Linked DNA regions of Homo sapiens. The protein of the gene in region 1 interacts with the protein of each later gene in a biochemical or structural test. Each region holds a gene or a part of one and is shown on either strand. Other genes may lie near its edges. The genes, in order: KLK4 and SPINK2.

Evidence for each region.
Region 2: the proteins of KLK4 (region 1) and SPINK2 are reported together in a solved structure, tested with the Homo sapiens proteins (one study listed by IntAct).

What each region holds. Positions count from the first base shown.
Region 1 is NC_000019.10:50,905,697-50,908,540, forward strand, and holds the end of KLK4 (kallikrein-4 isoform 1 preproprotein), read right to left. Parts: intron 2,800-2,844; coding exon 2,663-2,799; intron 1,391-2,662; coding exon 1,238-1,390; 3' UTR 655-1,237; downstream 1-654. UniProt on the Homo sapiens protein: Has a major role in enamel formation. Required during the maturation stage of tooth development for clearance of enamel proteins and normal structural patterning of the crystalline matrix.
Region 2 is NC_000004.12:56,818,670-56,826,175, reverse strand, and holds the start of SPINK2 (serine protease inhibitor Kazal-type 2 isoform 1 precursor), read left to right. Parts: upstream 1-4,474; 5' UTR 4,475-4,513; coding exon 4,514-4,718; exon of another isoform or gene 4,719-4,856; intron 4,857-5,596; coding exon 5,597-5,640; intron 5,641-7,506. UniProt on the Homo sapiens protein: As a strong inhibitor of acrosin, it is required for normal spermiogenesis. It probably hinders premature activation of proacrosin and other proteases, thus preventing the cascade of events leading to spermiogenesis defects.

The DNA.
Region 1 (2,844 bases):
AGAGTTACAGCTGCTGTAGATATAACCAAGACTTGATGCTGTTATTCTTTTCAATTTTAGCCATTCTGGTAGCTGTATGTCTTTTGAAATGATTCTATATTTTTCAGATACTGGGTGCAACATTCCATATATGACCATTAAATAGAGTATGTTAATCATACTGTTCAAATTATCTATATACTTATTCAGTCTCCCATCTCCTTGCCCCTCAGTTGCCCCATTGTGCCCCTCAAACTTCCCTCTTTCTACTCCTTGGTCTCTGTTGCTGTCACTCACAGTAGCCCTCGCCACAATTCTCCCCACTAGACTCTAGCTGCAGCAGCCAACTTCTGAGACACATGCAAATTAAAAATTCTTGAAATGCAGTTAAGAAGACAAAAATGAATATAGATCAACTAAAGCTGAATAGTTAAACTAAGCAAGAAAATCTCTACGGTTACCATTTGCTGACCTGACTTTTCAGAAACTGGACAACATCCATGGCACTGGTTTCTCTTAACTATCCAGGGAATGGCCCCTCCCTCTGAAACTCTGTGGCCCTCCTGGTCAAAGCTCGCATTTCCCAGATAGGGAAATGCGACCCATGGAGGGAAAGCCATTTGCTGGAATCTCTTGAATGGAAGGGGAAGCAAGGAGGACACTACAAACAGAACCTGCGCTTCTCTTAGACTTTATTTCTGGATCTAGGGGAAAGGGACAAAAAATGAAAAACCAACTGGTAAGGTTGGGTCAACGTGCCACAAGGGGGCACTGTGTACAGGGAGAGTCTAGGTGGCATTGGACCGCTGGGTCTGAGGGAGGAGGGGCTGGGACCTGGACCTCTGGGTCTGGGGAAGGAGGGGTTGGGGGCCTGGACCTCTGAGTCTGAGGGAGGAGGGGTTGGGGGCCTGGACCCCTGGGTCTGAGGGAGGAGGGGCTGGGGGGTCTGGACTCCTGGGTCTGAGGGAGGAGGGGCTGGACTCCTGGGTCTGAGGGAGGAGGGGCTGGGGGGTCTGGACTCCTGGGTCTGAGGGAGGAGGGGCTGGACTCCTGGGTCTGAGGGAGGAGGGGCTGGGGGGTCTGGACTCCTGGGTCTGAGGGAGGAGGGGCTGGGGATCTGTACCCTTGGTTTGAGGGAGGAGGGGCTGGGGGCCTGGACTCCTGGGCCTGAGGGAGGAGGGGCTGGGAACAGATATTCCTGAATTCCTTCCGCAGGATGTATTTGGGGGTCAATTTCATGGGTTCCCAGTCCCCAGAGTTAACTGGCCTGGACGGTTTTCTCTATCCACTCAGTGAATTTGCAGAGGTTGGTGTAGACACCTGGCACGCCAACTTGGCCACACGGGGCTTTTCCGAAAGACACAAGGCCCTGCAAGTACCCGTTGCAGATCAGGGGCCCCCCAGAGTCACCCTGTTGTGAAGAGAGGGAGAGTCAGAATTCAAAACACAGAGAGGTGGAAATGGATGTGGGCTCAGAAAGGAACTAAATGAGACTGAGAAACAAAGACAGAACCATCATCAATAACAACATAGCCCAGCAACATATCTGTTGGAAGTCCCATTCCAGATCCCTGACTTCATCTAATCCTGCTTCCCGATGTCCTATGTCCTGAATGCTGGCTGCTTCTCTTGGGCTTGTGGTCTGTCTGTTTCTGTTTGTCTGTCTCTCCTTTGTCTCCTTTGTGGCTTGTTTATCTGTCTCAGTGTCTCTGCATCTCTTTGTAAAGTCTTTTTTTTTTTTTTTTTTTTGAGACAGAGTCTTACTCTGTTGCCCCAGCTGGAGTATAGTGGTGTGATCTCAACTCACTTCAACCTCTGCCTCCCATATTCAAGCAATTCTTCTGCCTCAGCCTCCCAAGTAGCTGGGATTACAGGCGCCTGCCACCATATCCAGCTAACTTTTGTATTTTTAGTACAGACAGGATTTCACCATTTTGGCCAGGCTGGTCTTGAACTCCTTACCTCAAGTGATCTGCCTGCCTCGCCTCCCAAAGTGCTGGGATTACAGGCATGAGCCACCCTGCCCAGCCTCTTTGTAGAGTCTTGATTTTTCCTGTTTCTCTTCGTGTTTCACCTCTATGAATCTGTGTCACTGTTTCCCTCTGGGTACACAGTTGACCCTTGAACAACCCTGGTTTGAACTGCACAAGTCCACTTATACTTGGATTTTTTCAATAAACACATTAGAAAAATTTTAGGAGAGTTGCAACAATTTAAAAAAATTCACAGACGAACTGTGTAGCTTAGAAATATCAAAAAATTCCAACAAAGGTATATCATGAATGCATAAAACGTATGCATAAATCGACTATTTATGTTATTGGTAAGGCTCCCCGTCAACAGTAGGCTATTTCTAGTCAGGTTTTTGGGGAGTCAAAAGTTATAAGAGGATTTTCTGTTGGGTGGAGGTCACCGCCCTCAGGCCCCATGCTGTTGGAAGGTCAACTGCATTTCTATGTGTGTGTGTTTCTGCCTCCCCATGTCTGTTTCTGTTTCTCTCTTCCTTTGCTTCTCTTTATTCCTGTGTTTATTTCTCTGTTTCTCTCAGTTTCTCTCTCTAGTTGTCACTGTCTCCCTGTGTGTCTCTCCATCTCTGCATCTCGCCATGCGGCCCTGTGTGTCTCTGTCTCCCCCTTCTCCACCCTTCCCTGAGTCGCCTGCCCTCCCCTTTCCCCTCTCTCACGTTGCAGGAGTCCTTCTGGTCTTGCCCTCCGCCGGCGCAGAACATGCTGGGGTGGTACAGCGGGTCATAGAGCTTACTGCAGACCTCCTCAGACACCACCGACACGTTCACGCACTGCAGCACGGTAGGCATTCTGCCTGGGACGCAGAGCTCTGGGTCAGCCCCCGCGACTGGGCAGAGGA
Region 2 (7,506 bases), on another chromosome or scaffold:
TAACAAGAGTCACCTTTACTCTAGTTCCCAACAAGTTCCTCATCTCCATCTTAGACCACCTCAGCCTGGACCTTATTCTCCTTATCACTATCAGCATTTTGGGCAAAGCCATTCAGCAAGTCTCTAGGAAGTTCCAAACTTTCCCACATTTTCCTGTCTTCTTCTGAGCCCTCCAAACTGTTCCAACTTCTGCCTGTTACCCAGTTCCAAATTCACTTCCACATTTTTGGTATCTTTTCAGCAACGCCCCACTCTCCTGGTACCAATTTACTGTATTAGTCCATTTTCATGCTGCTGATAAAGACATACATGAGACTGGGAAGAAAAAAGGGTTTAATTGGACTTACAGTTCCACATGGCTGGGGAGGCCTCACAATCATGGTGGGAGGTGAAAGGCCCTTCTTACATGGCAGGAGCAAGAGAAAAAATGAGGAGGAAGCAAAAATGGAAACTCCTGATAAACCCATCAGATCTCCTGGACTTATTCACTATCATGAGAATGGCATGGGAAAGACTGGCCCCCATGATTCAATTATCCCCCTGGGTCCCTCCCGCAACACTTGGGAAATCCGGGAGATAGAATTCAAGTTGAGATTTAAGTGGGGACACAGCCAAACCATATCACCTACCTCTACAAAAAATACAAGAATATTAGCTGGGTGTGGTGGCGGATGCTTGTATTCCTAGCTACTTGTGGGGCTGAGGTGGGAGGATCGCTTGAGCCCAGGAGGTTGAGGCTGCAGTGAGCTGAGATTGCGCCACTGTACTCCAGCCTGGGTGACACAGCAAGATCTTCTCTCAAAAAAAAAAAAAAAAAGAATACAGTTATGCCCATTCATTGAGTTATAGTCTATGTCTCCTTTTGCACTGCAATGGCAGAGTTTAGTTGTGACAAGAAGTCAATGGTATTTACTATCTGGCCCTTTACAGAAAATGTTTTTTGACCCTTGTTCTTGGCTCACAAATGCTGAGACAACATGTGAAAAGCACCATGATAGAAAATATTTCTAAGGTATAATTATCAACATTTTTTTTTTTTTTTTGAGACGGAGTCTCGCTCTGTCACCCAGGCTGAAATGCAGTGGTGTGATCATGGCTCACTGCAGCCTCCACCTCCCAGGCTCAGGTGATCCTCCCACCTCAGCCTCCTAAGTAGCTGGGACTACAGGTGCGCGCCACCACACCAGGCTAATTTTTGTATTTTTTTAGAGACAGGGTTTTGTCATGTTGCCCAGGTTGGTCTCCAACTCCTGGGCTCAAACAATCTGCCCGCCTCTGCCTCCCAAAGTGCTGGGATTACAGGCATGAGCCACCCTGCCAGTCAGTGTCAACTCTTTGAAACAAAATAACCTAAAGGCAGCTGTATCCACACACATAAATTTATAAAAAATCTATCTTGAGGGGTAAATGGCTTTTCTTTTGAAGCTGAAATTCCTACTCACACACCTCTGAGCATTGCCCCTGAGTCTGGGTCAGATTTGTGTTCCCAGAGCATCAAAGGTGTTTGTAAGCAAGTGCACATGTCATTTGGTAACAGACATCCAGCACAGTTGAGAAAAGCTTTATATATAAATTATATTTTATCAATCCTTGATAAGAATCTTCAGCAAAATGACCCATGACCATTTCATGACTGTTATTCAAAGAACTGAATGTGATGTGACTTAGAGAAGTACTAACACTCATTTCAAATTTACCCCTTGGCCTCAGACAGGATTCCAGCCAGAACTCAGCCATGTGTGGTGCCAAGTGGAGTTAAAAACTGCACAGTGTCTTCTTGTTCCAGCCTTTGAGGTTGCTAAGGTCAAGGGTGGGCATGGGAACATGCCAGTCATAAGATGATTCTCCATCAGCTCTACAACCCCCTTCTACACTCTGCTATGTGGTGCCAGGTCTCAGCAGACCTCATTTCTGCTTTTTCAGCTGGCTTCCAGAAGGTTATGCCCATAGGGTCTGTCAGGGGGACACCGGAAGGCAGGAGGAGGGAGAAGGGACTGGCTCCTGCCTGCTGGCTGTTTCTTTCAGCAGTGCCACAGCAATGACTCTTCATCACTCTGATAGAATCAGCTGGCTCCAGTCTCCAGCATTTTTTTTTTTTTTTTTGAGACAGAGTTTCACTCTGTTGCCCAGGCTGGAGTGCAGTGGTGTGCTTCGCTCACCACAACCTCCACCTCCTAGGTTCAAGAGATTCTCATGAACCTGGGATTACAGGAGTATGGCACCATGTCCAGCTAAGTTTTATATTTTTTAGTAGAGACAAGGTTTCACCATGTTGGCCAGGCTGGTCTCGAACTCCCGACCTCAAGTGACCCACCCACCTCAACCTCCCAAAGTGCTGGGATTACAGGTGTGAGCCACTGCACCTGGCTCCAGTCTTCAGCTTTTCCACACACTCTTAGAGCCACCTGCATATCCAAGCAACACCCCCTTCCCATGGGTCTGAGTCCCAGCTTTCCAGGACCTCTCCTCCAAATTTCTAGTTCTGAGAATCCCAACCTAATCCGTTTGTTCCCCTAGATCGAGGCATGATGCCTACTTCCTAAAGGCTTTATCTCTGTGTTACCTCGTTTTCCCTTTCTGCTTTTTTCAGTTATCCCTACTGGATTAGCCAATTCCTTATACTAAATTATCTCTGGTGAAATACCTAGTAAACCTTGTGTTTTCCAGACTGGACCCTTACTGATAAGGCAACATGTCACAGAATCATTTGACACACAGGCATAAGAAGCAGAAAAAAAAAAAAGTGGATCTGCTAATGCACTTTTTTTTTTTTTTGACAGAGTCTTACTCTGTCGCCCAGGCTGGAGTGCAGTGGCACCATCTCGGCTCACTGCAACCTCTGCCTCTTGGGTTTAAGCAATTCTCATGCCTCAGCCTCCCAGGTAGCTGGGACTACAGGTGCGCACCACCATGCACAGCTAATTTTTGTATTTTTAGTAGAGATGGGGTCTTGCCATGTTGGCCAGGCTGGTCTCAAACTCCTGGCCTCAAGTGATCTACTTGCCTCAGCCTCGCAAAGTGCTGGGATTACGGGCATGAACCACCGTGCCTGGCCAAATTTTTTTGACATGGTCTCATTTTGCCACTGAGGCTGGAGCGCAGTAGCTCAATCTCAGCTCAATGGCCACACCTGGCTAATTTTTGTACTTTTTTTAGAGACGGGGTTTTGCCCTGTTGCCCAGGCTCCTCTCAAACTCTTGAGCTCAAGTGATCCACCAGGCTCAGCCTCCCAAAGTGCTGGGATTAGAGGCGTGAGCCACCACGCCTGGCCTTAATGCACTAACTTGCTCAGCCTCTTTGGCAAAAATTATTTCTCACAGAAGTAATGAGTAGAACAGTAGTTACTAGAGGCTGGGAAGGATAGGGGGATAGGGAGAGGTTGGTTAAAGTATACAAAATTACAGCTAGGTAGAAAGGATAAGTGCTAGTGTTTCATAGCATTGTAGGGTGCCGACAATTAACAATAATATATTATAAAGGTCGAGCACGGTGGCTCAAGCCTGTAATCCCAGCACTTTGGGAGGCCAAGGTGGGCGGATTGCTTGAGCCCAGGAGTTTGAGAGTAGCCTGGGCAACATGGTGAGAACCCCTCTCTACAAAAAATGCAAAAATTAGCTTGGCATGGTGGCATATATCTGTGGTCCCAGCTACTTGGGAGGGAGGCTGAGGTGGGAGGATCACTGGAACCTGGGAGGTGGAGGTTGCAGTGAGCTGAGATCGTGCCACTGCACTCCAGCCTGGGTAAAAGAGCGAGACCCTGTCTGAAATTTAAATAATAATAATAATTTATTATGTATTTTCAAGTAGCTAGATGAGAGGATTTTGAATGTTCTCAACACAAAGTAATGATAAATGTTTGAGGTGATGAATATGCTAATTATCCTATTTTGATCACTACACATTGTATGTATCCAAATATCACTATGTACCCCCATAAATATGTACAATCATTATGTGTCAACTCAAATAGTTAAAAAATATATTAAAAGAGGGAAAGGCAGAACGCTTCCTGAGAGCAAGGACCTCCTTTGTCGAGGTCAGGGCTGTGTCTTCAGCAACGAAACACTATCTGGGACTTAGTACATGCTTAAGAAATAGGTGTTGATTGACAGAGCTCCCAAGAGCTCCACAAGGGTCCCCCTAGGACTGTCACAGGTTCTTGTATGTCGGAGGGAGAGGTCTTCCCCTTCGTCTCCTTGGGGGGAGGGGAAGGTGTTGGGGAACAACTGCCCCTTCCTCTATCTCCCTCGCCCCTCCTTCCCCATGGCCCCCTCCCCCGTCCTTCTACCTTTCTCCTTCCCAGCCCTTTCCGGTTCTCCCCCGACCCTTCACGGCTCCTCTTCCCGCCGCTCCTCTTCCCGCCGCCCCTCTTCCCTCGCCACCTACCGCTGCTTTTCCTCCCATTCTCGCCCCGCCCCTTCCCCCGCCCTCCCCGCGCCCCGTCGCACGAGCGCTCCCTGCGAGTGGCGCAGGTAACAGACCGCAGGGGCAAGACAGCCGGCGCGGGAGGAGGATGGCGCTGTCGGTGCTGCGCTTGGCGCTGCTGCTCCTGGCAGTTACCTTCGCAGGTAGCGCTCGGAGCGGTCCTGGCGAGCGGGGACCTCCGGAGAAAAGCGGGTTTGGGAGTCAGACCGGCGGCGGACCCTGCCCTGCTCCGGGCGGCCTCGGCGACGGTACCCGCGCGCCCGTTACTGGCGGTTCCCCAGAGGACCTGCCAGGTGGAGGAACGCGAACTGGGGGTTGTGGGGGTGGCTTTGTGGAGTCAGCCACCCTCTTTAGTTCTTGCTTGGGCTTCGCTCCCAGCTCTAAGGACACCTGCCATCTAGAGCGCTTTCTCTGTTAAAGTAGATTTTCAGGTGCCCAAGATGAGGAGTTGAGTTTTTATGTATGGTCCCAAGGGAGGAGATGTGCAGGAATGAGGAATTGTGGATGCTTACGAGAAAGGGGCTTTAGTCCAACCACACTGGACACCTCTCTTAAAATGGAGTTAAAATGCTCACATCTTATATTAAATTTTGTATTTGTTACCCCGAGTTGTAAAGGAAAATAACATCATGAACTATTAATTAAGGGTTACTTCCTTGGCCAGGTGTAGTGGCTTGGGCCGGTAGTCCCAGTTACTCCGGAGGTTGAGGCGGGAGGCTCGCTTGAGACCAGGAATTGAAGCTGCAGTGCGCTAGCGCGACTTTTATTCCATAGCTTCAAAGTCCTTTCTCAACCAACCCTAATGGGAACAGAACCAAATGTTATTTCTATGTGCTTTTGGGGAGAGGTGCCATAAAAAACTGAATATCCTTTCTGGGGGAAGTGGGATGGGGACAGTTTAAAGAAGGTAGGCATTAGAGGGGAAAATAGAAGATGTGGCCTGGATAAATCCCAAACTGGATTTTAAAACATCCTTATGAAGCTGGATGTGGTGGCTAATGCCTCAAATTCCAGCACTTTGGGAGGCCTAGGCAGGAAGATCGCTTAAGCCCGGGAGGTCAAGACCAGCCTGGGCAACATAGCAAGACTTCATTTAAAAAAAAAAAAAACTTCATGAACAATACCTTACCTTGATCCTATACTGTAAAATGTCTATGCTTTCTTCTTACAGCCTCTCTGATCCCTCAATTTGGTCTGTTTTCAAAATATAGAACGGTAAGTAGCAAACCACTTCTACTGTTTCTACTAATACAGTGAAGCCCAAAACCGTTTGGGAGGGAGGCTGGCTTTCAGGTCTGACCTGCCACTTTTGAAACCATTGAGGACTGCGTTTAAAACCAGGTTGTCAGGCAGGCCTTTTGATTCAGATAAAAGTGTAAGTTTTAGTTGAAAACAGCTCAGTCTTTGTGTTAATATTTCCTTTAAAGATTCAAAAGGTCCTTAGAAAAAGTTATGCCTTGTACTAGATATTTTATGTACTTTATCAAATTAAATTCTGAGGATGTAAATGGAGACCAACCAAATGAGAACAAGCAAAGGCTATGTTTTTCAGGGCTTGTTATAGCAAGAGAGTCAGCCACTGTCACTTGCATTTGAGTAGGGACTCGAGTCAAAGAGAGGAGTGGGAAAACTATAGTGGAAAAAAGGAATGGCTTCAGGTATGGCCTGATTGGAGGCTGTTGGCACAGGGAAGCTGTAGGTGAGCTAACTAGAAGCACAACATTCTATGGTATGGGTTAGGGGTGTGTATTTGGTTTTCTCTGGTTGTCCTAAGTTGGAATCAAGGACAGAAATTACGGAAGCTGTCAGTTAGTAATCAAATCCTAACCATTTTGCAGCTGGGCGCAGTGACTCACGCCTGTAATCCCAGTGCTTTGGGAGGCCGAGGTGGGCAGATCACGAGGTCAGGAAATCAAGACCATGCTGGCTAACATGGTGAAACCCCGTCTGTACTAAAAATACAAAAAATTAGCCAGGCATCATGGCACGTGCCTGTAATCCCACCTACTGGGAAGGCTGAGGCAGGAGAATCACTTGAACCTGGGAGGCAAAGGTTGCAGTGAGCTGAGTTCATGCCACTGCACTCCAGCCCAGACAACAGAGTGAGACTTCATCTCAAAAAAAAAAAAAAAGAAAGAAAAAAAAGTCCTAGCCATTTTGGGCTGATTGTTAAAGGGGTTATTGTTTTGCTTCCTGGACTGTCACTAGAGATAGCAGTCTGATTTCCTTCAAGTCTGGCTTATAGCCGGCTGGCCTCCTGGCCTGGTTATTCTAAATAATGGTTTGGGTTCCTGGACAGGATGCTGCAGGTTGTGGGTCAGAGTTCTGTTTTATATAAGGACTAGTCATTGTCTGTATATTTGGTCTCTCAATTCTCACAATGATGTTGTAAGATAGACATTATTTGACATATGAGGATATTGACTTCAGCAGGTTAACTTTGAGCATTCAGCTCAGAGTAGGCTTCTTCCAGGAAGCCTTCCCACGCGATTCCCTTCCTCTAGAGATGTAGATATGTATACACACACACTTTCTCTGTGCTTACCTATACTGCATCATCATCACCATCATAATAATAAATACTTAGATACCTACATGCCACACCAGTGTTCTAAATGCTTCATATATAATAACTAATTTCATCTTTCACAGTACTGTGAGGTAGGGATCATTATTTCATTATTATCCCCTTGGCCAAGGTCACATGGAAGTGGTGGAGCTATGCTTCTCATCCAGGCAGTCTGACTCCAGATCCAGTGCTTTTCTCTACCCTGTCACAACATTAGGTTGTAATTGCCTGTTTGCCTACGTCCTCCAGGAAACTGTATGCATGTTGTCAGGTATAATGTCTTATTTGCTATTTGTTGCTCAGTCTTCAGCATCTCACAGATGCCCAATAACACTTTTAGTCAGTGATTCAGTTTGCTTGGGTTTGATTTTCTTTTAGAAAATGGGAGTTATGGTACCTTCGTTTCAAGGCTGGGATTAGGGTAAAGTGAGTGAGTTCCTACATGTAGAATTTAAGAAGGCACTCACGCTCAGGAGGCAAGGCAAGTGCTGCAGGACCTGCTGTCTTTTTTT